Homo sapiens: one gene and its partners. The protein of the gene in region 1 interacts with the protein of each later gene in a pairwise test. Each region holds a gene or a part of one and is shown in the gene's direction. Other genes may lie near its edges.

Region 1 (3,631 bases):
AGGCAGCCAGAAACTTACATTTCGCTTGTAAGCACAGCCTTTTATAGGCTCATTTTGCATTTTCACATTGTATCCCAAGCGTTTCATGTGGTGAAGTCACAGCGTTCAAAACCATCCTTTTACATGGCCTCACAATATTCCCAAAGGCGAGTGAGCATCCCCAGTCCAGCAAATCTTCACCGAATGCTTATTATGTGCCAGGCCTTGGGCTTAGACGTCAGAGCACAAAACCACCGCAGACACACCCCCTGCCTCATGGCACTGCCAAGGTTACCCAGCCCCTGCCAGCCCTGGAGCATTCATTCTTTCCATTGTGTCATTATTATAAATAACTCTGCACAGAACATGCTCTTGGGACCGTTCTGTGTCACAATCTTTACAAAAACTGAGAAAAGAATGACTGCCCACAGAGATAAATTCCAGGGTCGCAGACGGGCTGCGCTGGGTTGACTGGCACGGCCTTGGGGGTCCATTGTCAGCTCCTGCTACATGTAGCCGGACGGCAGGTGGCACAGGATTCTCCCGTATGGGAGTTCATCTTGAACCATGAGCCCACAAGCTGGGTAGATTAACTCATCTAAGGTCACACAGTGAGATACAGGAAGGTGCTAGAATGATGCAAAGCCTGTCATTCAACCGCCACAAGAATGGGCCTGCAGTCACTGCCCCTGGAAAGAGTGACAATCCAAACAACAACAACAATAATAGAATACCTCCTGCTGCTGCGTGGGCTGGGAACGATGGTGAGTGCGTCACATGGGAGTCTTTAAATCAACTTTAAATCAACTTTTTGACTACATATAGGCTGGGTGCGGTGGCGCAAGCCTGTAATCCCAGCACTTTGGGAGGCCGAGGCTGGTGGATCACTTGAGGTCAAGAGTTCGAAACCATCCTGGCCAACATGGCAAAACCCCATCTCTAATAAAAATACAAAAATTAGCCAGGTATGGCGCTGCATGCCTGTAGTTCCAGCTGCTCAGGAGGCCGAGGTATGAGAATCACCTGAGCCCGGGAGGCAGGGGCTGCAGCGAGCTGAGATCACACCACGGCACTCCAGCCTGGGCAGCAGAGTGAGACTCTGTCTCAAAAAATTAAAATAAAATAAAATAAAATAAAATAAAATAATAAATTGGCTACATATAGAAAAGTACGTAACTCCTGTGAGTACAGGTTGATGAAATTTCTCAAGGTAAGCACAGAGAATGAAGAAGCAGGCCCCCTCCCAGAAGCCCCCATGCCCTTTCTGATCAGGATCCCATTCCCCATCCCCGGAGGTAACCCCTCTCTTGACATCCAGCTCCATAGATGAGTTCTGCCTGTTTCTGAACTCTGTAAAAATGGAATCATACCATATTTAATCATTTGAGGTGACAATCATGGTGGCCTATCCTTACATGGCACTTACTTCCAGTCAGGTTCCATCCTAAGCACTTTGTGTTTGTCAGCTCACCAAATCCTCCCCACGACCTCACGAAATAGGTCCTGCCACCAACATCTTCCTCATTTTGCAAACTGGGGAAACAGACACAGCTCCCTGATGGCAGAGTCAGGATTCGAGCCCAGGCAGCGGGGCTCTGGAGGCTGCCCTCTGAACCCCACCCTACACCACCCTAGAGCATCCTACACCACCCTACACCACCTCTCCTGAGGGAGGCACCCTTGTTAGCTCCATTTTACAGAAGAGGAGACTGAGGCTTAGAGAGGTTGAATTACCTGGCCTAGTCCTACAGCTACAGCCTAGTCCAGCTCCAGGGCCTGACACTGCCCTGGACATCTCCCGTCCCACCCAGCCCCCCAACCCCTAACAGTGTCTGACTCTGGCGTCCTGCATCCTCCCCAACAGAGGTCTTCGCAACAGCCGGGCCACTGCCGGGGACATCGCCCACTACTACAGGGACTACGTGGTCAAGAAGGGTCTGGGGCATAACTTTGTGTCCGGTGCTGTAGTCACAGCCGTGGAGTGGGGGACCCCCGATCCCAGCAGCTGTGGGGCCCAGGACTCCAGCCCCCTCTTCCAGGTGAGCGGCTTCCTGACCAGGAACCAGGCCCAGCAGCCCTTCTCGCTGTGGGCCCGCAACGTGGTCCTCGCCACAGGCACGTTCGACAGCCCGGCCCGGCTGGGCATCCCCGGGGAGGCCCTGCCCTTCATCCACCATGAGCTGTCTGCCCTGGAGGCCGCCACAAGGGTGGGTGCGGTGACCCCGGCCTCAGACCCTGTCCTCATCATTGGCGCGGGGCTGTCAGCGGCCGACGCGGTCCTCTACGCCCGCCACTACAACATCCCGGTGATCCATGCCTTCCGCCGGGCCGTGGACGACCCTGGCCTGGTGTTCAACCAGCTGCCCAAGATGCTGTACCCCGAGTACCACAAGGTGCACCAGATGATGCGGGAGCAGTCCATCCTGTCGCCCAGCCCCTATGAGGGTTACCGCAGCCTCCCCAGGCACCAGCTGCTGTGCTTCAAGGAAGACTGCCAGGCCGTGTTCCAGGACCTCGAGGGTGTCGAGAAGGTGTTTGGGGTCTCCCTGGTGCTGGTCCTCATCGGCTCCCACCCCGACCTCTCCTTCCTGCCTGGGGCAGGGGCTGACTTTGCAGTGGATCCTGACCAGCCGCTGAGCGCCAAGAGGAACCCCATTGACGTGGACCCCTTCACCTACCAGAGCACCCGCCAGGAGGGCCTGTACGCCATGGGGCCGCTGGCCGGGGACAACTTCGTGAGGTTTGTGCAGGGGGGCGCCTTGGCTGTGGCCAGCTCCCTGCTAAGGAAGGAGACCAGGAAGCCACCCTAACACTCGGCCAGACCCGCTGGCTCCCAGGCCCTGAGAGGACAGAGATGACCACATCCCTGCTGGATGCAGGACCCGTCCAAAGATGCCCCGGGGAGGGGTGTCAGCCCACGTTGCTGGCCTTTGGGGTCAAGAGGAGTAGGGATCCCAGGCTGCCCTGGACTTAGACCAGTGTCTGAGGTGGTAACAGCGGCCGCAGGCCAGGGTTGGCCTAGACCTGGGATTTGTGGGGAAAGCTGCTGGTGTGACCAGCTGAGCACCCAGCCAGGAGACCTGCAGCCCTGCGCCTTCCAGAAGCAGGTCCCAAATAAAGCCAGTGCCCACCTGCTCTCATGCGTCTGAGGACTCTGTGCTCGGAGGGAGCTGCGTTCCCGGAACCCTGCACTGGGCTGGGGGGAAGGGAGGAAAGGGGATTGTGGGAGGAGTCCTGGGGCATGTGGTCCTGGATGAGGTCCATGGCTGGGGCCTTGGGGTACAAAGGATGGTGCCCCAAGTGTGGGGGCAGTTGAGCGGGCAGCTGTACTAGAGTCTGGGGGTGGGAGTGGCGGGTGTGTGCAGGCAGTGATGTCCAGGAGGGCGCTGCAGCCCCGCCCCCTCCGCAGCCTGTCCCAGGCCTCCCTCCTCTCTGTTCTGCCATGCGGCCTCCTTTCAGTCCCTCCTGCTGGCCAGGTCTCTGCCTGCCCCAAGGCCTTTGCACAGAGAGTCCCCAGCCCAGGACAGTTTCCCGCCTTTCTTTAACTCCTTTTCCTTGGGATGTCTCAGCATAAGAATCACTTCCTCTAGGAAGCCTCTTCTGACACAAACCCCTCCACTGCCGTCACAGCAAATACTCCTTTCATGGTCTA
Region 2 (8,028 bases), on another chromosome or scaffold:
TAATTTTAATAAAAATATGTGGGGGTCTCACTATGTTGCCCAGGCTAGTCTTGAACTCCCGGACTCAAACAATCCTCCTGCCTTGACCTCCCAAAGGGCTGGGGCTATAGGCATGAGCCACTGTGCCTGGCCTTACCTCCTCTGTTGGAACAGTTGGCAACATTGGAATGGGATCTTTTGATTACATGGTAATTTTTTTACTTTTGAGCATTGTATTAGGATCATATAGAAGAATTTTCTTGGTTTTAAGAAAAATACAATTCTGGAGTTTGGTCTGTGTGCAGAATTCCTTCACTTTGTCACATCCTTTTCACTATCAAGGCATCAAAATGATAAGCAGCAGAAACACAGTCAAAGCACATAAACACTGGGAGTTGAATAGTTTTTAGCTAATTAACCACTCTGCCTGAAAGCCTTAGTAATGAGATTCCTAGGATTTCCACCTACCAAACCCTCGAAGGGCTACTCTAGACTAAAATAACTTCTCAGGCCAGTGGGTAGAAAGCCATCAGCAGCTCCACTGGAAACAGGCTATCATATTAGCCACTGACAATGGAGGCCATATAGCTAGCATTCTAGGAGAAATAGCAGAGACATTGGCATCTTATATCAGATCTGCTTGTCTCATGACAAGCCTTGCTAAAGGCTATAGTGCCACACGAAGACTTGCCAGAATTAGACAGCTGCTGCTGCTTTTTTTTTTTTTTTTTTTTTTTTTATTGAGACAGAATCTTGCTCTGTCACCCAGGATGGAGTGCAATGGCACGATCTCGGCTAACTGCAACCTCTGCTTTCCGGGTTCAAGCGATTCTTCTGCCTCAGCATCCTGAGTAACCGAGATTACAGGCATGCTCCACCAGGCCCAGCTAATTTTTGTATTTTTAGTAGAGAAAGGTTTTCACCATGTTGGCCAGGCTGACCTCGAACTCCTGACCTCATGTAATCCACCTGCCTCTGCCTCCCAAAGTGCAACAGCTGCTTCTTGACAGTTGTTTCCACCCAGGCCGACGGTATTAGATTGCTGTCCAATCAGAGCCAGGGAAAGGGGAGCCTGACTATTTACATGCAAGGATACAGAGATCTTATACCTAATTCACATCAATTAAATCTTAGTCAAGCATTTACTTCCAAGGAAATCAAGAGACCTGGAGTCTAGTTTGCTTCTACAGTGAACTGGCTGAGTGATCTTGGCCATGGCATTTGACCTCTCTGGGCTTTGTTAAAGAAAAGAGATAATCTCTAGCCTGGGTGCAGTGGCTTACGCCTGTAATCCCAGCACTTTGGGAGGCCGAGGCAGGGGGTTCACTTGAGTTCAGGAGTTCGAGACCAACCTGGCCAACATGGTGAAGCCCCATCTCTACTAAAAATAACAAAAATTAGCAGGGCATGGTGGCACATGCCTGTAATCTCAGCTGTTCAGGAGACTGAGGCAGGAGAATCGCTTGAACCCGGGAGGCGGAAGTTGCAGTGAGCTAAGATTGCACCAGTGCACTCCAGCCTGGTGACAGAGAGAGACTCCATCTAAAAAAAAAAAAAGAGAGATAATCTCTAAAATTTTGTGAGTTTTCTGATACTTAACTGTCAAAATACAGCAGATATCTCAAGTTTCCTCAGTTGTAAAATGGACTTAGTGAAACTTGCAGAGTTTTTCTACAAATTTAAAATATCTTATGTGTACAGAAAGGGAAAAATAGTAACATTACCAGGGAGAAACCCAGTAAACATCACTTTAGGCAAGTGATCAAAGTTGACATCACCTGTAATAAAACCTATCAATATCATGTGCCCCCAAATATGGTTTGAGGAGGTAGCCATGTCACATCTGTGACAGTCTTCCCCTAAATCCATAACCTCAGTCTAATCATGTGAAAAATATCAGAGAAACCCAAATTTAGGGTCATTCTACAAAAACCTGACAAGTACTCTTCAAAAGTGTCACGGTCATGAGAGACAAAGACTGTGGAATGATCAGAGACTGGAGGACACTATCTTTGCAACTCTTTTGTAAGTCTTTGCAAGTCTTTTGTAAGTCTAAAATTATTTTAAAATAAAAAGTTTTTTAAAGGTCTCTGTGAAGTGGCTAGCTCCCAGTAGGCACTTAATGAATGAGAGGTATTATAATGATAAGCAAAGACATTGCTTCCAATAGTGTTAGTAATCAAAGAAATGCTTCTTGGTGGAAAAGACAGAGCCATTAGTTGGCAATGCTGTGCAGCAGAAACCATTCCAGCCACAGATATTACATGACCGTGGGTGAAATATGTTATAAAAACTAGTTCTTTATCCTTGAAGGGGCTTCTGGGAATTGAAATGTGCAGTTGTTTATGTGTTCATTATCTGCCCTTTGTTCATGGGCTCGAGTTGGACTTCTCCCTGATAGCATTGGTTTCCACAGCTGTGCCATTGAATAAACCTTGAGTTTGGACCTGTTCATCTGAGAGAATGTTTTATCCACAACAACTGACAGAGCAAAATGAATGGCACCTTGCCCTTTCTGTGTTTGATATGCCCACCCTGCTCTGACAAGAGGCTCGCTGGTGTCACACACTTCTGTTAGTTACTCACAGATGGTGCTGGCTGAGACAGCTGAGGAAAGAAAGCTCAGTGGGTATGCGGCCCAAGACAGCTCCTTCGCCTGGAGCAGATCAGCAGAGAAACTTTGATTGCACTGGCAAAGCCAGAAGTGTAAGAAATTTCTCTTTGCATAGGAAAATTTCATTCACCAGATATATAACACGCATTTATTAAGGGCCTTCTAAACCTGAGAGGGAAATGGGAACCCACTTCCCAGCTCCACGGTCTTATGGGCAAACGGGAAGTTAAATAAGCAAAAACAATACAGTGTGGGTCAGTGCTCTGAATTTCAGGGTGGGATAGAATGCTAGGCTGGGACCCAAACTTATGACAGTGGGGGAAAGAAACCCCACCTTTGCTGTCTATGCCACTGGTGACTTTGAGGGTGGAAGTCAGTCTTTTTGTTGCAGGCAGATAGGCCAGCTTCTGATTGGAGATGCTGCATACCACATGAGCCTGGGCAGATTATACCTATTCCTGTGCTGTCCACATAGCAGATATTCAGTTAATGCCCATTGAGTGGATGCTGATTTGCGTCAGCGAGTAAATGTAGCATTCGACCTGATCTAACTCCAAAGTAATATTAAATTCAGGTCTTCTCTAACAACACCATTTATTGAGTGCTTAAGAAAATCCTGGCACTGTGTAAAATGTATTACATAAATTATTTAATTGTTACCAAAACCTAATAACAGAATGACTGTAATTGTACCTATTTTATAGGTGAGAAATCTGAGACAGAAAGGAAGAAATAACTCACCTAAAGTTACACAGGCACAGCCAATAAGGGGCCAACCTAGACTTTGAACCGAGGTGGTCAGTCACCAGAGACCACTGTCCTCTATTCTGCCTCTCCAAGACTAGTAAAAAGCCCTGGGCATTTTCTTGGAGGGACAGATGGCTAGGCTGATGGTTCCTGCAAGCCCAGACATAGAGTCCTTCAAAGCCGCAATCCCAGGGATCAGGAGGCTGATAGTACTCCCTATTTTACCTGTCACTTCCCACCTTCTTCCATAGCCTCTAATCTTGGATTATTGAGACTGGTCGCATGGGAACAGGCATGACTGCAGCCTAGGACATGCCTCCACTCTGCCATACTTGAAATGTGCTCATCTCCTTACAGCCCAGGGAGCAGCTATTGTGGGTAGAAGACAAGGTGGAGGCCAGGCAGGCACTTCCCTTCCCCAGAGCCACTTATGCTCTCATCTAAGAGCCCTGAAACCAGGTGTGACATCCCAGGAGTTGACAGACAGTCTGGTTCAGTATCTAATTCCAACTTCTGTCTCAGATGCCTAATGTGGCATGGCTGAATGAGTCAACATATAACCTGTACAGTAAGTCCTCACTTAACATCATTGATAGGTGCTTGTAAACTGTGACTTTAACGAAAACATACCGTGTGCTGTAGGGACTTAACTCTTGTTTATATCAGTTAGCCTGGTTTCACTATACAGTACATCATTTTGCTTAAAGTCACAGCTTACGAGAACCTATCGATGATGTTAAGTGAGGATTTTCTCTGCTCAGGTGCACTTTTTTTTTTTTTTAAGACGGAGTCTCTTTCTGTCACCTGGGCTGGAGTGCAGTGGCGTGATCTGGGTTCACTACAACCTCTGCCTCCTGGGTTCAAGCAATTCTTCTGTCTCAGCCTCCCAAGTAGCTGGGATTACAGGCACCCGCCGCCACACCCGGCTTATTTTTGTATTTTTAGTAGAGACAGGGTTTCACTATTGTTGGCCATGCTGGTCTCGAACTCCTGACCTCATGTGATCCACCCGCCTCGGCCTCCCAAAGTGCAGAGATTAGAGACGTGAGCCACATGGCCCAGCAGGACCACTTTTTAGCAGATTCAGTCCCAGTGTTCATTTTGTGGATGGGGAGAGACAAGAGGTGGCAAGGTCAAGTGTGCAGGTAGAGACAGGGATTTTCTCAAATGAGGACTCTGCTGAGTAGCATTTTCCATGCAGACATTTCCAATGAGCGCTGACCCAAGAACATTCTAAAAAAGATACCAAATCTAACATTGAATAATGTTCTGATATCCTAAAATTTTAGGACTAAAAATCATGTTCTCTAAAATTCACAGAATATTTTTGTAGAATTCAGTACCTCCCGTTCACCCTAACTAGCTTTTTTGCAATATTGTTTTCCATTCATTTGATGGCCAGTAGTTGGGTGGTCTGTATAACTGCCTACTCAATAACATGTCAGCAGTTCTCAGCTTCTTTCCAGTGTTCACCTTACTCAGATACTCCCTTTTCATTTTCTGGCAACACCAGCACTTCATGGCAACAGAAATGTCCCTAGCCAGGTTCTCTCTCTACCATGCAGTCTCTCTTGCTCTCATACTCACAGTGTTTCTTCACATCTATTTTTAGTTTTCCTGGCTCAAGCATCTTCAGGCCACTGAAACACAACCCTCACTCTCTTTCTCTCTCCCTCTGGCATGCATGCTGCTGGTAGGAGACCCCCAAGTCAACATTGCTTCAGAAATCCTTTAGCACTCATTTCTCAGGAGAACTTATGGCTTCAGAATCACAGCTCGGTTTTTAAGATGGACATAACCTGTACGACCTTCTGATGGGCTTTCAACTTTGAACTGGATGTGGACACTTTTCTCTCAGATGACAGAATTACTCCAACTTCCCCTTTGCAGTTGCTTCCTTTCCTTGAAGGTAGCTGTATCTTATTTTCTTTAAAAAGCTTTTTCTTCCAAAGCCACTTGCCATGCCGACCGTCATTAGCGCATCTGTGGCTCCAAGGACAGCGGCTGAGCCCCGGTCCCCAGGGCCAGTTCCTCACCCGGCCCAGAGCAAGGCCACTGAGGCTGGGGGTGGAAACCCAAGTGGCATCTATTCAGCCATCATCAGCCGCAATTTTCCTATTATCGGAGTGAAAGAGAAGACATTCGAGCAACTTCACAAGAAATGTCTAGAAAAGAAAGTTCTTTATGTGGACCCTGAGTTCCCACCGGATGAGACCTCTCTCTTTTATAGCCAGAAGTTCCCCATCCAGTTCGTCTGGAAGAGACCTCCGGTGAGTAGCTTCCTGCTTGCTGGCTGGGTTTTCCCCCCACGGAGGAGTCCTCTCACTCAGCACCTCCGGCAGCTCAGCTGTGCACATGGGCACTGGGGGAAGGATCCTGGCAGCAGCTCTGCTGGGCTCTGTCTTTAAGTGTGAAGCAGGGAGGAGAGGAACAGGTCTCAGATATTTCACCAAATCTCAGCAAAATCCAGAGGGAGAGCGCAGGAGGTGGGGCTGATTCTTATGCTCTGGCTCTTTCTCTCTGAAAAAAAAAAAAAAATCTTGCTTTTTATAAAAGTGGGTGGAACTCAGTTTAATTCATCCTGTAAAAATAAATATTCCTTTCTCAGAACAAATTCCAGACAGCCCAGATGTACCTGTTCGTTTTAAATATTATTCATCTTTGTAAGATTATTTCAGTTTCTCTGGCTAAAATCATGATGTTATTCTTCTTTAATTTACCAATGGCCATATCTTTCTGAAACACAGAAACCCTAGAAAGAGAAGAGTCATAGGCAAGGAATATTTTTTCATGCATAAAATGTTGGGGTTAAAGAGAGAGAGACCTAGCAATCGCTTTTGTCCACCTACCTCACCTCATAAGTGAGGAGTCAAGGCACACTAGAGTGAAATATATCTAGTGGGCACATGACAGAGCCCGGATTAAAACTTTCTGTTTTAGGAAACTCTCCCAGCCTCTGGGTTTCATTTACAGTGATCGCCAGGAGGGAAATCACATTCCCCTGGCTCACCTCTCTGATCATCCCTCCAGTGTGACTCTTGTTCTTAATTCGAGAAATATTTATTGAGCATCTACTAGTGCCAGCACTGGGCAAGCAACTGGGGGGACAGCAGTGAGTAAGAAAGACCAAAATTCCAGCTGTCTTGGAACCTAGGGTCCTGAAGGGAAGATGGGCATTGAACAAGAGTGACATTGTCAGGAGACGATGTTCTGGGTGCCACAGGATCATGTGGCAAGGAGAGCTAACCTGGTCCAGGGAGACAAACCCTCTCTGAGGAAATGATGACAAGCTGAGACCCAATACTATTGATTAGCCATGGTTTTCTTTAACCTAAGGTGGGCCAGGCATGGTGGCTCATGCCTATAAACCCAGCATTTTGGAAGGCCCAGGCTGGAGGATTGCTTGAGCCCAAGAGTTAGAGACCAGCCTGGGCAACAGGGTGAAAACCTATCTCTTTTGTACTAAAAATTCAAAAAATTATCCAGGCATGGTGGCACATGCCTGTGGTCCTAGCTACTCAGAGGCTGAGGTGGGAAGATCACTTGAACTCGGGGAGTTGAGGCAGCAGTGAGCCGAGATCATGCCACTGCACTCCAGGCTGGGTGACAGGAGTGAGACCCAGTCTCAAACAACAACAATAACAACAACAAACCTGAGGTGGAGTACTAGACAACCCTGTATATTCCATAGGGGCTCTTCTTGGTTCTATGGTAAGGCCCATAACTGTCCTGAAGGCCTTCAGTTTAGAAGATAACACTACTCTGCTATCAGAGTAGTTGGACATGTCACAACCCCCTGCTGAAATATCTTCAGTGACATCCCTCTCTCGGCCCCCACTGCCTTCAGGACAAGTCCAAACTCCTTAGCCAAGCCATAGGCCCTTCTCAGCTGGTCCCTGCCTACCTGTCCAGGCCCATGTCCATCCTCTTTCCCCAGATCCTGACACACCAGCAGTGCTTGGACATTTAGCTGCTCTGTAGTTCCAAGTCTTCTCACACCGGAGGCCTTTGCTCATGCTGTCTGTCTGCCTGACATGCCTTTTTTGTTCCTATCTGAACCTCTGCTCAGGTGTCACTTCCTTCAATCTTTCTCATGACTGATTTCCTCTCACTGAGAGCAGAAATCCTTCCTGTTCATCTTTGAGGCCCCCTCACCAAGCTCAGGCCAGTCCCATAGTGGGTACTCAGCTGATGCTGGTGAGTGAAAACCCACGCCCAAGGGCCTTGACCAGTGAGACAGGATAGGCCTGCGTTCCCAGGCAGGGAGTTCCTAAAAGCCCTTTCTTGGGCCAGACATGGAGGCTCATGCCTGTAATCCTAGCACTTTGGGAGGCAGAGGTGGGAGCATCAATTGAGCTCAGGAGTTGGAGACCAGCCTGGGCAACATAGTGAGACCCTATCTCTATAAAAAAAGTTTAAAAAAATAAAAGCTCTTTCTCAGAATGGGGAAAATTAAAACCTACAAATACTGTTTTCAGTGAAATCATTGGTGGACTTGAGTCTTCAAGCGAGACTTACAAATTAATAAAAATTCTTTAAGGGCCTGTTATGCTCTAGGTACTAGATTGGGCAGTGTCCATGTTTGAAATGAGGGGTGCAGAAGACTTGTCTGTTCTAAATTGTGCCCCCACCACCACCATCACCAACAACAAAGATCCTGGATTTTCCACTGTTTGAGTCACTAAAGG
Region 3 (5,884 bases), on another chromosome or scaffold:
ACCCATCTCTGAAGTCACAGATGACACTGATGTGCACTTTTGAAAAGGCCAACTGACAAGCCTGCGTGTGTTTTAAGCAGGTGGGACTGCCTTTTAGCCTATTTACTGTGGCCCCAATGTGCACAAACACAGACATCAGGCAGATATTGGACATTTAAGAATAAAAATAATGTCTTGGGGGCACCAGTTGACTGAGAGAAATTAAGCAGGCTTCAATGAAGCGATAAAAAAAAAAAGGAAAAGTAGAACTGTCCTTTGAGTGACATAAATCTGTCAGAATACGATTGATGCCCAAATTATCTTATATGCAAAGATGAAATGCTGCAGTTCATTATGCCTAGTCTAGATATATGACAGCAGTGACACCATTGATTCTTCACTAGGGAGTCGGTGTGTTTTGATTATTTTTTACATGTGCCTACTGACTTCCGACATGAGACAGAAAGACAGGAAAGTCAGTCAATAAATTTAAAGGGAAAGACATTTAGGAGCAACTGAATATGAAGGAATGGATTTTTCACTGAGGCTGAATGGCTGCAGTTGGATTAAGAAACCCATTAGACTTTAAAGCTTCAAGTGTTTTTGACATCTGAAAAAAATTCAGAGTCTGCCAACAAGATATATCCTTTGCTGAAGACACCAGAGCATAAAAAAATTCATATAACATTGAAACTTCCTTGTTTAATGAGGCTGAATATAACAACACGTACCTTGATTAAATCATTCTCTATATGTAAATAGAGGCCAACATTTTATAGGGGAGCTCAGGGGGTCACCACGGCACACCATTGATGAAGCCAATTTCCTTCCTTCCTTCCTTTACTAATGCAGTCAAAAAATGTAGAAAGCAATGTTCCCTAAAACAGCTATAGAGAAAACATTTGCTCAGCTTGGATAGTTCTTAATATAGGCCATATAATTTCTAGCCTATTTAATTACATAACATATTTTATGCTTCATGACCAATTACATTAATAGCTTAATACAGAAGAATATTATCCTCTCTTGATTTGATTATGCAGCCACACAATATGGTATATTTGGTACTTAATTATCATCATCCATTGAGCAGGCTGCTGTGGTAGAATAAACAGAGAGCTGGGACTATGCAGGCTGTGTTATTGTCTTTAGATGGTTTTGCCACTTCTGTTAATAATGGACTGCGGATCTACTTAACAAAATGACTGCAGCATATAAGCCTTTAGATTACCAGCTTACAGTGTCAAAAACATCTGTTCAGCTTTTCAACTGTATGCACTGGAGGTTAAATAGAGGTGAATAAAGCTGTCCTTTTAGATCCGGGGATGTGCAACAGTAAATATAACCTTAATTCAATAAACAGGTAACTTGTAAGAGAAATCAGAATCCTTACAATTGCTGACTTCCCACCATTTAACTCATAACTTTGAATGTTGCATATCTCAATTGAGAATTTCTACATTTATTACATTTTATTCCTAATATCAAGGCATTATTTGGGGGGATTTTCAGAGATAAACTACCGGGCATGTCATATGACCTCACATTGACTTCTTACCTTTGACCTTTACAATCTCTTGGGTGTACTGCTATAGGAATGCCTCTAATTCAAAAAGGGGGCTTCATTTTAAATACACGTAAAAGCTCATTTCTTCAAAATGAATATGCTGTAATGTTTTGTGTAATAAATTTTTCATGAGGAAATATAGATATGATAAGATGTCAATTTTATTTTATTCTACTATCTACAATTTTTGTCCAGGTCTACAAATGCAACACAGAAAAATAAATGATCTATCAACAGTTAACTGATAAAACTCGACTCAAAATTTATATTCTTATTGCATTTATCAAAGAAATGTACTGAATACCATTTTGAAAAACAGTTCCACTTTATGACATTTAGTTGCATTAAATATTTAGTTCTGTTGTGTTGCATTATACTGCTGTGCGATGAAATTAAATGCAAACTACAATTTGAATGTCTGCAAACATTGGCAAGAATCTGCAGCTAAATTTAGGTATAAGATTTGCAGTGTCTGTTGTTTTTTTTTTTTTTTTCTTTTCATCTTTGATGGGTAAAGTATAAAAATGTTTAGGAATTTGACCCGCTTTCTTTTTCCCTCTCTATTTTCAGGTTTGCAGAGCATGCCAGGGGACTACGTTTCTCAGGGTGGTCCTATGGGAATGAGTATGGCACAGCCAAGTTACACTCCTCCCCAGATGACCCCACACCCTACTCAATTAAGACATGGACCCCCAATGCATTCATATTTGCCAAGCCATCCCCACCACCCAGCCATGATGATGCACGGAGGACCCCCTACCCACCCTGGAATGACTATGTCAGCACAGAGCCCCACAATGTTAAATTCTGTAGATCCCAATGTTGGCGGACAGGTTATGGACATTCATGCCCAATAGTATAAGGGAACTCAAGGGAAAAGGAAACACACGCAAAAACTATTTTAAGACTTTCTGAACTTTGACCAGATGTTGACACTTAATATGAAATTCCAGACAGCTGTGATTATTTTTTACTTTTGTCATTTTTCATCAAGCAACAGAGGACCAATGCAACAAGAACACAAATGTGAAATCATGGGCTGACTGAGACAATTCTGTCCATGTAAAGATCCTCTGGAAAAAGACTCCGAGAGTTATAACTACTGTAGTATAAATATAGGAACTAAGTTAAACTTGTACATTTCTGTTGATCACGCCGTTATGTTGCCTCAAATAGTTTTAGAAGAGAAAAAAAAATATATCCTTGTTTTCCACACTATGTGTGTTGTTCCCAAAAGAATGACTGTTTTGGTTCATCAGTGAATTCACCATCCAGGAGAGACTGTGGTATATATTTTAAACCTGTTGGGCCAATGAGAAAAGAACCACACTGGAGATCATGATGAACTTTTGGCTGAACCTCATCACTCGAACTCCAGCTTCAAGAATGTGTTTTCATGCCCGGCCTTTGTTCCTCCATAAATGTGTCCTTTAGTTTCAAACAGATCTTTATAGTTCGTGCTTCATAAGCCAATTCTTATTATTATTTTTGGGGGACTCTTCTTCAAAGAGCTTGCCAATGAAGATTTAAAGACAGAGCAGGAGCTTCTTCCAGGAGTTCTGAGCCTTGGTTGTGGACAAAACAATCTTAAGTTGGGCAGCTTTCCTCAACACAAAAAAAAGTTATTAATGGTCATTGAACCATAACTAGGACTTTATCAGAAACTCAAAGCTTGGGGGATAAAAAGGAGCAAGAGAATACTGTAACAAACTTCGTACAGAGTTCGGTCTATTAATTGTTTCATGTTAGATATTCTATGTGTTTACCTCAATTGAAAAAAAAAAGAATGTTTTTGCTAGTATCAGATCTGCTGTGGAATTGGTATTGTATGTCCATGAATTCTTCTTTTCTCAGCACGTGTTCCTCACTAGAAGAAAATGCTGTTACCTTTAAGCTTTGTCAAATTTACATTAAAATACTTGTATGAGGACTGTGACGTTATGTTAAAAAAAAAAAGGTGTTAAGTCACAAAAAGCGGTAATAAATATTTCATTTTTGATTTTTTGTTAGGCTTTTGCGTTTTTAATGGTTTTAGGACAAGACTGCACAATGCCAACTCTATACAGTGTTAAAAGTAGGTTTTTCCCCCCAGCAGTTGAGTATATTTTAAACTCATCAATAATTTTTAAGGTAATCATCTATAGCCTTTCAATGTCTATTTGACCTATAAGTTCCACCAGCAGAAAACTTCTAAAGGTACGAAACTATGTGTACATGATGAGCCAGGTTGAAAGATCCCCTTGAACATGCTCAACCTCCTTTTTAGATGCATGACGTTAAAAAATATATACTTTCAGATAAAGCTTTTCATGGGCATCCTCTGCCAGAATAAAGGACTTTTCAGGGTTAATTTTACAACATAAGAAATAATGTCTGTGCTCAAAGGTAATTTATCTGCCTGTGTTTTTCCTCTGCCTGTCTTACTACAATATTGTTGGATATGTAAATGAAAATTTACATATGGGTGTTCATAGATAAGTAAACAACTTCTATGGAGTTTGAAATTCTGACTTTAAAAGATTACTTAATCATTAATATTTTATAAATTATATTGTGGTATATTTTTATTTCAGACACATCCATGTGCAGGGATGCTAGTGTGATGATTTGATAACTAAACTTAAACTTTTTTCTGAAAACAAAACAAAACAAAATGGACGGTATAATGCCATTTTCAAAATTTTATGCAACATTCCTGGAAATCTATACCATTAGCTTATTGATACTGCACAAACAATGTCTGCTAAAGTGTGCAAAAAGGGTGAGGCATGTCCCCTCAATTTTCAAATAAATATACTATCCTGGAATTTTTTAACTCTTAAATTTTGAATCTTTGTTTAGAAAGAATAATGTCATATACTTTGGCTAGATATGTGATGTCAACCGGCTAAGGAAATTATTCATCATCTCTGCAAACTTAAACTTGGAAGAAATCCATAGTTATTATTTGGGGCTCTTCCATCTTTCCATTTCAGACAGCATTTATGGAGGTTCTATATAAATGAACGAGGAAATACACTTCTATTGTTTTGTGTTATATTTAGTCAGGTAGAATTTTTACAAATACATTTCAGTTTAAGTGTTGTGTTGCTGTTTAAACATAGAAATAATGCTTCTGACACAAACTAACTTAATAGAGAAATTCAGTGCCACTTGGGAAAGAGAGATAGCTTCCCTCTCATTTTTGCTATTCTATTTTACATGAAGTCTTTTTGTAAATTTTAAATATTTGCCTATTTTTACTTTAAATACTTTTATGTAAACTATGAAAATTCCCCATTATAAATCAACTCTCACATCAGGTGGGAAAAAGAACCTTTTTTTCTTTCCACTCAGTAAATTCTGAAGGGTTTCCTTGGCAATTGGCTCGTGTTTAGGATGTGTTTTATGCAATTATCAAGTTATCTCATTGAAGTTTAGAGACCAGAGCTCTCAACTCTTGGTTTTAATGAATAAAGTCATCTCATGCTTAGTTTATTCGTCAAACCCACGTCCTATCATGTTAACTTTAACCTTCTTAAATATTTGGAGATGAATGATAATTGTAATATTTGTTTGCATTACCTTGCTCTCCCCCACCCCCAACCCCATGATAACACAGAGAAGTGATAGATTTGTCCAATTTTTATAATGCTTTTTTTACACCACCCCGGAAGGCACTTGCTCCTATCTCGGGTTTACTATTTAGTGTAAAGAGTTCCGATTTGGGTATATTTAAGAAAGACTCAGCTGTCAAAAGCAAAGAAACTGGGAATGGTGTTTTGACAACCATATAGTGTTAAAGGAAATACTGTAGTCTGAATAAAATTGCTTATGTTCTCCAAAACAAGAGTAATATAAAAACACTTTTTTATTTATATGAAAAAGCAAAAGCAGAAATAAATTCCAAAGGTTTCCCTTTCTTTAAGAAATTCTGAGAGAACTGCAGTCGCCATCTGTTAAGGGTTGGGAATTGAGCAAGAAGCCACATTTTAAACGAAAAAGAGAGAAAAGACCAGGAAAGTCTGTGTCTTCCGTCCACCCCTCCTCTCTTCCACCCCCTAGGTCAGCACCCCTCACGCCCCTCAGCTCTCACCCTCGTTAGAGTCCACCAGGATCCTCCTGCCTCCTCACCCCCTCCCGCCCCCGCGGGCCTGTTAACCCGGAGCAGATTTGGGAAGGGAAATGTGGCTAATATCTCTAGCAGCTGTCAAAGGAGGGACCTTCCTTCAAAGGGACTGGACAGGGATCCTCCACAAGTTCTCCATTAGCTAGCAGGCCAGCAATTTGATAAGGAGCCTGGACCTCCGCTACAAGTTGCCACTCAGTTAGAAAGTCCGGTGTCCGGGTGTCTGGATG
Region 4 (7,038 bases), on another chromosome or scaffold:
ACGATCTCGGCTCACCGCAACTTCCTCCTCCCGAGTTCAAGCGATTCTCCTGCCTCAGCCTCCCGAGTAGTTAGGATTACAGGTGTGTCCCACCACATCCAGCTAATTTTGTATTTTTAGTAGAGATGGGGTTTCTCCATGTTGGTCAGGCTGGTCTCATACTCCTGACATCTGGTGATCCGCCTGCCTTGGCCTCCCAAAGTGCTGGGATTACAAGCATGGGCCACCGTGCCCGGCCAGCCTTCTGGTTTTTGTAGTCAAGAAAAGGTGATTACCTAAAAGATCTGCCTTTTAGCTGCCCTCCCTTGCACAGACTGGAGCTGACCTTCAGGCTGGAAGCTTTGAATCTTAAATAGTTAATGGAAAATTAAGCAATGAAGCCTCACACAGTGCCATTTTCTGCTTCCACCTGTTGGCTCTCCCCAGAATCTACCTTTTTAGAGCTTTAAAGTCATTTGAAATAGTTTGCCTAGGGTTTATATGAAGTGGTGACAGATATTTGCCTCAGCCTTAGTGGGAGTTGAGGGACTCAGAGGGCAGAGGAGAAGACAGGTGCTATGTAACTTGGATTCTGGAGTGCATGGGCTTGGAATCCCATCTGTTATAGTGAAGGTAAGGAGGACTCTGTGTCCCATAAGGACCAGGGGCATGAATCAAACCCTGTGATTCAGCCAAGGATCTTTTGCAGCACAATGGGATGGACTCCCCAAGCTGCCTAGGATGGGAGAATAGTTTCTCTAGAAGGGTGCCTTTTGACATTGGGAAGTTTGAGAATAGCATATAGAAGTGACAAAGTCAATCAAATCAACTGACAAAGAGCAGAACCCCATAGAAGACATGGAGAAAAGATCATGAGGAGTGGTATCACGGAAGTCAAGGGAGAGAGTATTGAAAAATTGAGTGAGAGGATGGATGCTATGAACAACCACAGTGGGATAAGGTTGAGAAGCAGCGGTTGGGTCTGGAAAACAAGGTGATGCTTGGAGTATCCAGGAGTGAGGGGAATCAGATCTGATGGGTGGGACATGAGGAGAGGAAGGCAAGTCTGTACTTGTAGACAACACTTTCTGGAAGACAGAAGGGAAAACTGGAGGAGAATGGAGCTCAGTGAGGATAGTGTCTTGTTTTACTCTTTACCTTTAAAGATGGGAGGTAACACTCAATGGAGAAAGGAGGCAGTAGGGAGGAAGAGAGAAAAGCATGGCCTAGGAGATGGTCTGCAGATGAGATTCCCGAGAAAGAGGGCAGGGGTGAGAGAGGTTGGCTTTGGCCAAGAGGAGGAACTCCTTTTAAGATGGATTCCATTTTAATATAATTGATTACTTGGACACACTAATATATCTTCAAGTTTGCATAAATAAACATTAAAAACAGGTTTAAAAAAAGTGTTGCATGGCCCTTTGTCATGGTGAAAATCTTCATTTCCCACTGCCAGGCTCAGGACCCTAGCTCACTGTTACGTTATTTCCTCTTTCCTTTTGTCAGAGAGTTGTCAAACACCTTTCTTCAGCTTTGCTAAATGATTTGAAGTCAAGTTGTTATGACTTCCCCAGCAGGACCACTCCAACTTTTTACTTAACTCTGAGTTTAACTCTTGGCCTTCCCTACTCTATAACTTTTATAGCTACTTACCTAAAAGAAACTTACTTCTCTGACCAGTTTCTTTTTCTTGGTTCATGTCACATGTGCACAGAGACTGGGAAATGTACCACAGAAAGAGAGGGGAGATCCAGTGTTCTTAAAAAGAAAAGCTAGTTAATTGGAGCAATTCTGGGGAGACTAAAATATAGACTTTTCTTTTACGTGAATTTAAAGGCTGTAAGATTATGTGTGATTGGGGACATGCAGTTATGTTGCGGTTAATGACAGGTTTCAGTGAATGTTCTCAACATAAAAACATAATGAGGAAACACATAAATTCTGATTAAATTCACTCCTAAGCCACAGTAACTATGTTTGGGTAGGTTATAAAAAAGTCAAACTTTAAAATTTTTCTTCTCTTCAGAAGTAGATACCGCTTCCCCCCACCCCCCATAATCATTTGCCTTAGTTATGGCTGATCAATAAATTAAACCATAGAGGAACACTTACAAAGGAACTTAAATTTTATACTGGAAAAGGCGATTGGCTTTTGTCTTTGGGAAACCAATTTCAGAATAGTCTGTGAACTGGTGAATTTGGTTTTGGGCTTTTGTCTGCTCTTTTCCGGTAGAAGCCGTGGGAGATGCGCAATAAGCGTGCTTTAGTTTTCAAGAGTCTGGCAGCCTTTGAAGGGAGGTTTCTGCGGCATCCCTGAGAGGAAGCTGGTCCTCTTGGTCAGAGTAACTGCAGAAGAGGCTGCTATGGACTCTGTGTGCAGGGTCCCTGAGAGTGGCAGCCTCACAACTGGAAAGCATCCCTAGATGCTCTGAGGTTGGGTGGGCTCAGCACGGCAGCTCAGGCGCCCAGCTTTGTTCCTCACTGCATGCCCTTGGTACCTCCTGATACTCCTTGGAAATGAATAGGGTGTAGGCTTAGGTAGCCATCACTGAGCACAGGCTTTTATAAGGGTTTAGGAATGTGTGGTCTCAGGCTGCCTTGAAACCTGTCCATCCCTTCTGAGAGTGAGGAGAGCTCAACTTCCCTTGGGAGCACTCCCTTTAGAATGTACACTTTCTGACCAAGAGTCCCTTTCCACTCAGCTGGTTTTCAGATGGAGTTTTCTGGGCATTTTCATTTGTCTTTGTAGCCTAAGGACTTACCCTCTTAGTTCCCTGCTACAATTGGTTTAGTGCTGAATAGACACCAGGGTGTAGTACTTGCTCACTGAGAACAGCAGAAGTAGGAGCTGACCCTTGGCTGCTTGTTCAGTCCATTCCCTCCATAAGCCCCGATATGTACAGTCAGCTTCCAGACACTTCAGGCTAACAGCAGGGCCCCTAGGAAGGGAGCCCAGGCTGAATGTCCTATAACTGCCGCTAAGATATATTTTTAAATCTACCCAGAGGGTGTTAGGGGAGTTCAACTGAAGCATCTCCCATTTCCTCCTTAGAGCCCTAGAGAGACTAATTCTCCTGCTTCCTAACTTCCTTCTCCCATCCCACTAAGCATTTTCAGGACCCGGTTCGGGTTTACTGACAATCATGTGTATAATTCACGCAAGACAGGTTACAGTGGAGCGTGTTACCTTTGCTAGTCAAGCATGGCTGAGTAATGCTGCTCCAGATTTTGGCCAGGAAGTGGGTTTTATTGGTGTTTGGGCCTAACGTTTTCCTGTCCGGAAACCTTCCCCTTCCCTTGACAGGGATGTTCTGGCAAGCACCATCAGGAAAAATCTACCTTCCCTTTGTCCAGTTGAATAAATGGGTTCCAGGCAAAAACAGTTTGTTGTGTAAAACAGACACCCTTCAGAGGGAAATGTTAGCATTGAGAGGTGGGAAGTTGCGAGTGCCCTGGAGGGCAACACAAGTCCGAGCTAAGCCCTGGCTCCTTAGGGCGGTTCCTGGTGGGCATTGCAGTGAGCATCTGGGCCTTTTTATCTGGGATGCTTTGGGGAGGGACTGCTTCCTGTTTAGTGAAGACCATTATACTTTTTCGATCCTATTGTTTTGGTACTCCCTGAAACAATGGGGGCGCAGACACCAGATAGCAGAGAAATGAAGGAGTCAGGGTTTCCAGTTATTTCACTGTTTTCCTCTTCTGGGTTTTCTGTAGGCTAAGTAGAGGAAAGAGATAAACATTAGCAGGAGAAGCTTTTGGGAACACAGAGAAGGTGGCAGCGGCACCTGAAAGGAAGATACCTCCGCAGTGAAGGGGTTGGGTGGAAGGAAGGTGGAGAGCGCAGCAGTAGAAACGGTGGCATTGTGGTTGGAGTGCAGGGTTTTCAGGTGGGGTGGGGATCGTGAGAGACAAGGGTGAGTCAGGCAGGAGCCAGGTCCAGAAAGGCTTATAAATTATGCCAGGAAGTTGAATTTTACCTGGAAGAGTTTTAAACTGGGGAAAGCCATCTGATTTCCATTTAGAGAGTTTATTCTGGCCACATTATGGTGATTGAATAGAAGTGGTAGGAATGAAGGAGGAAGCTCAGGTGGCAGGCTGTTAGTGAGAAATTGTCAGGATCTGGACCAAGGGGAAAGAAAAACCAATGAGGTGGAGGGGCACTGGTGGTGATAGACTCTGGGGCCGTGAGGAAAGGAGGTCAAAGATGAATACAGGTGTCTGAGTTGGGTGAGAAGGAATTGATGGTACCCTTCTCAAAAGTGGGAAATAGAGGAGAAACAGTTCGGGGGAGGAGGGAAGGCAGGTAGAGTAGAACAGGACTTCTCAGCAAATGTTTGTAGAGTTGGGTTGAGCAGAAAACATAAGCCTTATCGCAAGCCAAGGACCCCAACAGCATGCACTTGCTTCCTTACAGGAGAGATTTTGGGCCTCACAAAGTGGCACCAGTGAAGGTCCACCAGTATGACCAGTTCGTCCCGAGTGAAGAGAATATGGATTTGCTCACGACGTATAAGAAAGATTACAATCCCTACCCTGTCTGTCGAGTGGACCCCATCAAACCTCGGGACAGTAAATATCCATGTAGCGACAAGATGGAGTGTTTGCCTACTTATAAAGGTGGGAGAGCACAGAGGGGCAGATTGGGGGAAAGACAGGCTGAGCCTGTGTGCGGGCCAGGAAATGTGTTTTATGTGCATACTCAGTTAGTGCAAGAGTTGGCAGACTACTTCCTACGGGCCAGATCTGGCCAGCAGCCTGTTTTTGTATAGCTGGAGAGCTAAGAAGAGTTAAGCATTTTTTTTTAATAATTGAAAAACAAATCAAAAGGATATAATTTGAGGACTGTGAAAATGATATAAAATTGAAAATTCAGTGTTCATGTTTTATTGGAACGCAGCCATATTCATTCATTTACGCAGTATCGATGGCTACTTTTTTTTTTAGCATAGTAGCAAAGTTGAGTAGTTGTTGACAGAGACACTACAGTCTGTGAGGCATAAGACACTTAATACCTGGCTCTTATACAAAATATCTGCCAACCCCTGCCTTAGCTTGCAGTTTGAATCCTATATTGGGGGAAGCATTTCAAGTTCAGGCTAAGTTAGTTTCTACCACTGATTAAGTGATTGATTCATTCACATGTTTAAAAAATATATCAAAATGTAACATACATATGGAAAAGTATACAAATTATAATTATAGAGATCAATAAATTTGCACTGAACAAATCCATATAAACAGTACCCAGATCAAGAGATAAAACATTACTACTCCATTTCTGTTACCCTCCCCAATGAGAATATAACCATTATTTTAACCTTTAATACTTTAAATTAGTTTCGCCAGTTTTGAACTTTATATAAATAGGATTGCTTCTTTCTTTATTGAGTATCTATTGATATTACCTATGAGGTGTGGTCCTAGAAACTGAAGGAAGCATAATGGCCTGCCCTTGACTTTCTAGCCTAGTGGAGAGACAAGATACGTGGTCATATGTGTTTTGCTAGCAGACAGCCACTCTATGGAGCTCAGCTGCAAAGACTGAGACCATGAGACTGGAGACCAGGTTTGTAATCAATAACTCATGCTTATGATACCAACCTTTGCCTTGCCCTAGGAGGACAAGCTGAACAGTTCACGGACCTCTAAATGCTGTGAATAGAGAGGGCCACTTTTATTTAGTCAAGCCAAGCATTTAGGGTGAAGAGGGTGGTGGAGGTAGGGAGGTTGGAGGGATGTGAGCTCCTAGAAGGGCCTCTAATTCTGTCATCCTGGAGGACCCTGTGCTTAGTTGAGTTTCTCTGATTCTTCCAGGAACTGAAGACTGGATTGGCGTGGGCCTCTTCAGCAACCTGGGCTCTGCCCTTTTATTTTCTTTAGCTTCTTCCTCTAACACTCCCCCATAGATAGCTACCTTTGGTCAAGCCACCTTTTATCAGCAGTACAAGAACTGACTAATATTCTGAATGTTATCATACCCTGAAATGGCCCCACCTCTGAAGTCTTTGTGCACATCGGCATCCTGTCCTCTGGGCTTGTCCTCTTATCTCCTCCCACCACGACAGTCCTTGGCCTTTTTGGGACCTCCAGTCCATTGACGTCTTAATCCTCCCTCTTACCACCAGCCGCTCCTGTGTCTGTCCCTCCCCATGGAGTCTCTACTTCATGGCCTATCTTTGGAGCCCAGCTCCTACTGATAGCCGAGAGTCCCTCTCTCTTCAGCCCTTTTGCTGTTTCCTCCTAGCAAAGCCCTAATCCTGTTTTCCCCATGTCTACACCTGGGCACACACCTGAGCATATCTCCAGTCTTGTCAGCTTTTACTCATTTTCCACAGAAAGGGAGCAGAGCAGTCTTCTATACATGGCAATCTGATCTGACCACTCCTTTGTATAAAACTCCTCAGATAATCATTTGATAAAATCATTATTTTGTCTAATCATATCATTTTATCAAACGATAAAATCATTATTTTATCAAATCATATTATTTTATCAAATCATATGATCCTATTACGATAAAAACCCAAACCTTTTCTGCCTCCTCTGATGCCTTGGAAGTCCTGGTGTCTTCTAAGCCCCTCTGCTCCAGCCTCAGGGCCTTCTTTCAGGTCCCTTCCTACATTTCTTTTCTGCTTCAGGGCATTTGTTTAGCACATGTGATGCCTTCTATATAGAATCCTTCTGCTTCCTTAATCTAGCACTTATCCTTTCAGCTAGCAGCTGAAAGATCACATTCTGAGCCCTTCCGCCATGTCAGGCTGGATGCTATATGGGTGCCTTGCACTCCCCTGTCTTATCATGCATTGTGTACTTTTAATGCTTCCTTTAATGGCCAGGCTGTAACCTCCAAGGGGCAGGGATCTGTTTGTCTTTTTCTTTCCCAATTACCCTCTCACAGCAGGCACCACACAGGAGTCCATACAACCAGGTGTATGACCATGGGTAGGGTGTTGGGGGGCACTTTTGCCTCTACTGAATGCATTCTTCTCCTTTTTAATCCAGTGTTTACAAGAAGACCAGAAATAAGGCAGCACAGACATTGAGCTAGTGGGATAGAGG

The links.
Region 2: the proteins of OSGIN1 (region 1) and CAPN3 interact in binary tests that used the Homo sapiens proteins (3 or more experiments, as listed by UniProt).
Region 3: the proteins of OSGIN1 (region 1) and MEIS2 interact in binary tests that used the Homo sapiens proteins (3 or more experiments, as listed by UniProt).
Region 4: the proteins of OSGIN1 (region 1) and SAXO1 interact in binary tests that used the Homo sapiens proteins (3 or more experiments, as listed by UniProt).

The regions. Positions count from the first base shown.
Region 1 is NC_000016.10:83,963,219-83,966,849, forward strand, and holds the end of OSGIN1 (oxidative stress-induced growth inhibitor 1), read left to right. Parts: intron 1-1,843; coding exon 1,844-2,789; 3' UTR 2,790-3,114; downstream 3,115-3,631. UniProt on the Homo sapiens protein: Monooxygenase catalytic activity. Involved in regulation of cytokinesis; promotes RHOA activity, probably acting locally at the midbody in late cytokinesis.
Region 2 is NC_000015.10:42,354,505-42,362,532, forward strand, and holds the start of CAPN3 (calpain-3), read left to right. Parts: upstream 1-4,996; 5' UTR 4,997-5,301; coding exon 5,302-5,610; intron 5,611-8,028. UniProt on the Homo sapiens protein: Calcium-regulated non-lysosomal thiol-protease. Proteolytically cleaves CTBP1 at 'His-409'. Mediates, with UTP25, the proteasome-independent degradation of p53/TP53.
Region 3 is NC_000015.10:36,888,692-36,894,575, reverse strand, and holds the end of MEIS2 (homeobox protein Meis2), read left to right. Parts: intron 1-2,116; coding exon 2,117-2,403; 3' UTR 2,404-5,372; downstream 5,373-5,884. UniProt on the Homo sapiens protein: Involved in transcriptional regulation. Binds to HOX or PBX proteins to form dimers, or to a DNA-bound dimer of PBX and HOX proteins and thought to have a role in stabilization of the homeoprotein-DNA complex.
Region 4 is NC_000009.12:18,939,195-18,946,232, reverse strand, and holds part of SAXO1 (stabilizer of axonemal microtubules 1), read left to right. Parts: intron 1-4,393; coding exon 4,394-4,596; intron 4,597-7,038. UniProt on the Homo sapiens protein: May play a role in the regulation of cilium length. Stabilizes microtubules at low temperature.